Homo sapiens: one gene and its partner. The protein of the gene in region 2 interacts with the protein of the main gene of each other region in a biochemical or structural test. Each region holds a gene or a part of one and is shown on either strand. Other genes may lie near its edges. The genes, in order: PTPRG and CDH2.

What was found.
Region 1: of the proteins of CDH2 (region 2) and PTPRG, one has a biochemical effect on the other in vitro, tested with the Homo sapiens proteins (one large-scale study listed by IntAct).

The regions. Positions count from the first base shown.
Region 1 is NC_000003.12:61,564,571-61,568,070, forward strand, and holds part of PTPRG (receptor-type tyrosine-protein phosphatase gamma isoform 1 precursor), read left to right. Parts: intron 1-3,500.
Region 2 is NC_000018.10:27,995,312-27,999,339, forward strand, and holds part of CDH2 (cadherin-2 isoform 1 preproprotein), read right to left. Parts: intron 1-4,028. UniProt on the Homo sapiens protein: Calcium-dependent cell adhesion protein; preferentially mediates homotypic cell-cell adhesion by dimerization with a CDH2 chain from another cell. Cadherins may thus contribute to the sorting of heterogeneous cell types.

The DNA of each region.
Region 1 (3,500 bases), on a different chromosome or scaffold from region 2:
GAGGCGCAGGGAAGAGGGCGGTTTGGTTTGGAAAAGTGCAGCCCGAGAGGGAGCAGCAGGCTTTGGAGCAAGGTAAAGTTAAAATATCAGAGCTCTGGGAGACGCTGGCTTTTCGTTTTCCGAGGTTGCCGCGACGCCGCTGGACCTCAGGGGGCGCCCCCGAGCCACTGGTGGGGCTCCTGCCACCTCCACACTGGTCGGCCTCGGCCACCTCCACGCCTCAGGGATGGGGCGCGCGTGCCCGGGTTCCCAGGCTCTGGGGCTGCAGACGCGCCTTGGCGCGAGGCGGCGGCCTCGGCCTGGCGATGCTGCTCCTGGCTTTCTCGAAACCCGCTGGGGGCTGGAGTTAGCCTTGGGACCCCTACTTCTTGCCTGCTATGACCTCGAAAGCGCTTATCTGTTTGACATGAGGGATAAAAATGCTTCTGTTTTGGAGTAGGGTCGTCCTTGTGAGGTCTTAGCCAAAATCCCTTTTTATTTAGTATTTTTGTGTTTCCTCTCAGAATCATAACTCAGCATAACTCTTCAGTTGCATTTGAGTTCTCAGCTCCTGTTCAGGATATGGGTTAGCTGTAGTTTGGGCAGGGTTTTGGAAACACAGCCCTGGCATGAGCTTTTTCCCAGTGGATTGGAAACAGTGGATTTTAGTCTTTGAACAGCAGTGTGGCAGGTTTGGGATCCATTCAGGGTTAATAATGCTTCAAGTGATGCTTTCCAAGTGCAAAGCTAAGAGTGTTACCAAACATGATATTAGGCATATTACATTGCTATATACATCTTTATAAAGCACTGTAGAAACGTTTACAAAAATAGCAAAATATAATGGATCCCCCACCCAACTTCAACACTCACAACTCAATCTTCTCTCATCTCTTCCTCCCCAACACCTTATTATTTTAAAGCAAATCCTACACATAGTTCATTCAAACTCTGATACATATCTCCAATCACTGGGAATTTAATTGCCTCTGACACAGTATAAAATATGTTACTTCAGAGTGTTAACCTTTTATCTAGTTTACATTCTCAAGCTCAGCAGATTTTTTTTTTAATTGATTTTTGTCTTTCGGCCCTCAGAGTGAAACTCTGGTTTTGATATGTTTTGTATTGTAATTACATTATATCTAGGATGCTGCCATTGGAAACAGTTCAGATGGATAAGCTCAGCTGTGTACCTTGGATGTGTCAGAATTGGAGGCTCCATGATTAATGTCGGGTGAATCATGAATCTCCCTCTAAGCTGTCTCTTATTTTATTTGCATGTGCGGGCTTTAGTTCTGATGGGCATCCGTTATGGCCTTAGGAAAAGGCAAAAGTAATATTTGGAAATCAGCAATCTTTCTCTTTACAGGGTGTGAGATTGTACAGGTTTTTTTTCCCTCTCCCTCATGTATCATGTTTGAAAATGAAGAATCTTTACCCAGTCTCTAAACTGGGTTCCTTTGACACAGTTATGGAATAAAATCTTTGATGTTTCCTTCTAAACAGTGTTCACATTTGAGGGTTGATGGACTTAAAACACTAATAAAGATAGGCATAAACAGGGCCTTTTGGAAATAGGGGAAGTTGCTGTTGTTGCTGAAAGAAGAAAGGTCATAGGAAGGGTTGGCTGATGTGGGAAAAGTGACTATTCCATAGTGAAGCTTTGAGTATCTCCCATTAATTATGGACCTGTTTTCACTGAATAAAAGATTATGTTGTTGTTTACATGAAGCGATCCAGCGAATGCTGATGATTTAATGCAGCAAAACAAACAGCCCTTTCAGATTTGCCTTTCTATTCTAAACAGCTCCCAAGTTAACAGAGTAGAATCAGTTATACACCTGTGTGCTGATTGAAAGTAACTTCCTTGGCATTCACGTGAGATCACTTAAAATGCCCTAGAGTAGTTACTCAGGAGCCTCTCCTACTCCCTTGTCTCCCTGCCTTTTCCTGGAGACTTCTTTTCTTTTTTTGAGATGGAGTCTCACTCTGTCACCCAGGCTGGAGTGCAGTAGTGAGATCCTAGCTCATTGCAACCTCTACTTCCCAGGTTCAAGCGATTCTCCTGCCTCAGCCTCCTGAGTAGCTGAGTCTACAGGCACGTGCCACTATGCCTAGCTAATTTTTGTAATTTTGTGGAGACGGAGTGCCGCCATGTTGGCCAGGGTGGTCTTGAACTCCTGACCTCAGGTGCTCTGCCCACCTCGGCCTCCCAGAGTGCTGGGATTACATTGCTACTGGGCTGTTGCTTTAACACTTTGCTTTTACAGTGACACGTTGTTTGTTCTTTTTAAATCTTGATTTCCATTCAGCATGTGGGACAATGAAATGCCATTTCTAGGCAGGTTGAAGATTGCAATATGCGTACATTCTGAATTAAGAGATTTAAACAATTGTAGTTAATACTGTCATCCTGGGTTACATTTCATGTGGTCACATTCCATAACCCGGAGCTTATGGGAAAAATTTAGGGCATCTGAAGTTCCCTCTAAAGCACTTGGTGCCCAGAAATTAGCCCTTGGTTTGCTTTGGTTCAGAGTTGACCTCTGTTAGATGTTGGGTGGTGGTCACTGAAACTGTTTTCGGCTGTATCCTGTTTAGAGAATAAAAGGGCTGTTTTATTAATATTATAGAAGCCAAGGAGTACACTGCTCCCCACCTTTAATTTTCCACCTGAGCTTGATCTAGGTTAAGCAGCCACTGACGAGGTAGAGGGAGTGGCTCAGGAGGGACTCAGGAGGGGCTGAGAAGAGCCTGCTCTGTGAGGGCTTCTTGTGGGATTTGGCAATAGTCACTGAATTTGTCCCAGAATGAGGTTGCCTGTGCAAATGATTAAAAGATAAAACTGGGCACTGTGGCTCACTCCTATAATCACAGTGCTTTGGGAGGCGGGAGGGTCACTTGAGCCCAGAAGTTCGAGACCAGCCAGGGCAACATAGGGAGACCCTGCCTCTACAGATAATAAAAGAAAAATTAGCTGGGTGCACTCTTTTGTCCCCACTACTTGGGAGGCCAAGATGGGAGGATTGCTTGAGCCCACGAGGTTGAGGCCGCAGTGTACTGTGATCATGCCACTGCACTCCAGCTTGAGTGACACAGTGAGACCCTGTCTCAAAAAAAAAAAAAAAAAATTAAAAGATCAAATGTAGGCTGGGCATGGTGGCTCATGCCTGTCATCTCAGCACTTTGGGAGACCCAGGTGGGCAGATTGCTTGAGCCCAGGAGTTCAAGACCAGCCATGTGCAACATGGTGAGACCTCATCTCTACAAAAAATACAAAAATTAGCTGTACTTGGTGGTATGCGCCTGTAGTTCCAGCTACTCCAGAGGTGGAGGACAGGACTTTGGGGCTGCAATGAGCTGTGATGGTGCCACTGCTCTCCAGCCTGGGCGACATAGTGAGACCCTGCCTCAAAAAAAAAAAAAAAAAAAAGTTCATTTGCCAGTCTGAGAAATGGGAGCAACCATCTTACTTGGAAACAAACTATATCCAGGACTAGGGCAACATTCTGTGCACT
Region 2 (4,028 bases):
TCAAAAAAAAAAAAAAAAAAAAAATGTTAACATAGGCTATAATACTTCTTCAGTTGCTTTCCTTCCCCAATTAGAAGTGTCACTTCAGCTTAATGCTTTCATGGTTAGTGAGAGAATTTCGCAGGACATTCAGTTCAGCCTCCCAGCTGAAAACCATGAAAATAAAAACTTTTATGACTTTTGAAATGTCAGTTTTGTTAGCTGCTATTTGCAGAAACAGATGAACATTCTCAAAAAGAGAGAAAAAAAGGAAGCTTATTTCTTAAGAAGTTAACTCACATAGGTATTACATGAAAGTATAGTTATTTCCTAATGTCTAGTCTACAAAAATCTTTAGAATTATGTAAGCATAATACATCCAATAATTTTCCATTGATCTGCAATATTGGAATTAGTAGCTAATACTTGAAATTTCTTATTGCTGCAAGCTAGTCTGGAAATTTTAAATTACAAAAGGACACTTGTTATTTCCAAAGTACAATATCTCTTCAAATAAAAAAAAAATTCCACTTGGTAAATAGTAAATAATGTCATCTCCATTTTCAAATGCCAGATTGCTAAAACATTCTTATATTTAGTAAGGAAGGCTTGATAGCCTGTGTTTTAGACAACTGAACTGCTTAGAGCTTCTTGCCTAATTTGGTCATTGGGCATCTGGCTGTGAATGACTGACATTTAGATTCCGTTAAGTGTTCGACTTCCCACTCTCATAGTACCTCAGCTGATCAAGGGGATTCTGCTTGAAAACTTCTCCTCCCTTCCTGCTCTATATGGAATAAAATCCAAAATCATCTGCTTGCTGTCAATCCTTCCCTCTCCGAAACTCGCCTATTTTACAAAAGTGATTCCTCCCATTCGCTTACCCCACACCTGGAGCTGTTTTGCATTTATCTTCAAATGCCCTGTCATGATCCTGTGTCATTCCATTTGGCATTCTCCTCTGCCTAGACAAGTGGATGTTACACAGAGTGAACATTTTGGGTTGTTACAACTAAGCACTCCTTAGTTGTGACAACCAAACTCAGTACCGACATCTAATGGGTAGAGGCCAAGGATGCTGCTAAACAGCCTATGATGCACAAGACAGGCCTCATAACCAAGTAAAAATGTCATAGTGTCCTGGCTGAGAAACCCTTGCCTAGAATACCATTCCCTTCATTCCAAGCCTGGCTAACATGCAGCTTACAAGTCACTTTGGAGACGACTTCTGAAAGTTCTTGAGGAAGAGCTGTTTGTGTCCTCAGGACAGAGCCCTTACAACACACCCCATCACTGTTTATAGTTTATATGGCTGTTATCAGTCGTATGTCTGTATCTGCCTCACTGTGCATGTGTGTGCATACAGAGACACAGACACACACACACGTGTCCCAAGGGCCCTTGCTTTGTTGATGCTTGTGCCACTGGCATATATGGCACAGTGCCTGACTCAGAGTAAGAATTCCACAAATGCTTCTGACTTGGTGGATGGATGGGTGAATGCATAAGAAACCTTGGGTTTTGCATGATCTTATCTCAGGTAAAGAAAAAGCCATCTTCTATTCACATGGATAGCTATAATTTACTTCTTAAAACCCATACTGGGAGCATAAACTAGCTCACCTTTTCCCAAAACCACAGTGATTCATGCACAGTAGTCCCAATTCTAACATTTCCTCATACTATGAGTCACTTCCTATTTATATTGACATTAATTTCCCTTTTTAAAGCTTAATTTATTGTAAAAGTCCCATAAATGGAAAGCTAGCATCAGTTATCATAAATATGACAGTAAAAAATAAACATGATGAAATTCTTGGATTCTGGCAGTCTCTACTTGATGAAGTAGCACGTGAAAGGCTGTGTCCGCTTGCTGTCCTAGAGGCTTCTCAGCATTTACCAATTAAAATCTTATGCACGTGCAGCACAATTTTGAAACACTGAGTGACATCAGTGAATGAGGAGGTGAGAACATTCAGTCATTCATACAGCAGACATTTAATGAAATGTCTTCAAAATGCCAGGCAATGGAGTATTTACTTGGGTAAAACAGTGACCAAAACGAGATACAGCCTTGCTTTCACTAAGTGATGGAGGCAGAGAGTAAAGGATCACAGGACCATATAGAGCCACCAAATGCATGAGTGCAAGTCTAGAAATGGTAGGAAGAAGTAATATGAAGAACCTTCAATAGTGCATACCAACTATCAGGTTGGTGCAAAAGTAACTGCAGTTTTTGCCATTACTTTTAATGTCATTACTTTGAGTAAAAAGAGAAGAACTTGATGACTAAACAGATTGCAGGTAGAGGGACAGCAGGGCATGGGAAAGGCAATTAAACGATGACCTTGGGAGACTGAGGAGAAGGTCCTGGTCACGTGAAATAGGAAATTCATCATAAATCACGGGTTTCAGGAGATGACAGATTTGCCTCTAGATAAATTGGGTTGGGGACAGAGAGTTGAATAACAATGTCACCGAAACTTAGGAGGGAAGTATAGATTTGTGACTCTGTTCAAATTCTTTTTTTTTTTGAGACTGAGTCTCACTCTGTCGCCCAGGCTGGAGTGCAGTGGCACAATCTCGGCTCACTGCAAGCTCTGCCTCCCGGGTTCACGCCATTCTCCTGCCTCAGCCTCCCGAGTAGCTGGGACTACAGGCGCCCGCAACCACGCCTGGCTAATTTTTTGTATTTTTAGTAGGGATGGGGTTTCACCGTGTTAGCCAGGATGGTCTCCATCTCCTGACCTCGTGATCCGCCCACCTTGGCCTCCCAAAGTGCTGGGATTACAGGTGTGAGCCACCACTCCTGGCCAACTCTGTTCAAATTCTTAACTGCTAAGCCCCACTTCCCTCATCTGTGAAATGGGACTAAAAGTACCATCTACCTTATAAATGTGGTCTTTCTTTTGTATACATATTACATGCTGGCACTGTTCCAAGGGCCTTGATTTAAAAACAAAAAACAACTTTTATTGAGTTTGAGCACTATGTGCCCAGCACAGTGCTATGCACTATGCATTATTTCAGTTAGTCCTCACAATAATCCTATGAGGCAGGTGGGGTTTTGAAACCCCATTTTACAGATGAGGAAATGGGCTTAGGAAGGTAAAGGAGCTTGCCATGGACACCCAGCCATAAGAGGCAGATAATAGACTTGAACTCAGGTATGGTCAAGAATCTGTACCGTTAACCAATCCACTACGTGAGTGCCCTCTAAGATGGTAAGAGTACTGCACACATGCAGCATGTGCACAGGTCAAGCGGGGGAAGCAGGTGGAAAGCCGGACTTCAAGTGGACAAGGAAGGAGTGGAAGTATTTTTTGCTTGTTTGTTCTTGAGACAGGGTCTCATTCTGTCACACAGGCTGGACTGCAGTGGCACGATTATGGCTCACTGCAGCCTTGACCACCCAGACTCAGGTGACAGGTGATCCTCTTACCTTAGCCTCCTGAATAGCTGGGATTACAGGCATGCACCACCACGCCTGGCTAATTTTTTGTATTTTTAGTAGAGACAGGGTTTCGCCATGTGGCCCAGGCTGGTCTCAAACTCCTAGGCTCAACTGATCTGCCTGCCTTGAGTGCTGGGTGCCCCTTGGAGAAGACTGGTGTGGAACTCAGGTAAAGTATAGTAACTTAAACATTTCTTTACAATTCATGTTCAGGGTAATGAGACAAGGAATATCTGCCCCACTGGATGTTGAGAATGGGAATCCAGATATACTTTCTGTGTAACACAGTCTATATAGAGGTATGCAGAGACTACTGTGGGTGATCAGAGAAGGGATTGAGAACTGGCTCTCAGAGGGTAAGGATTAGCCTGTTATGTAGGAGAACAATATTTAGGCAGAGGAAACGGGAACAGAAGAATAGAAAACTTCCTATTTGCACAAGGACTGTGTGTGGTTCAATGAGTGGTTGGGCATCATTTGTATGTGAAAGGCAAGTAATTCTGGGGGGTTAGGTTAAGGAGGGTTTTGGGGCCAAGGTCACAGAGGGTCTGGAATGCACTATTAAAAAGCTCTAACTTCATCCTATAGGGCATGG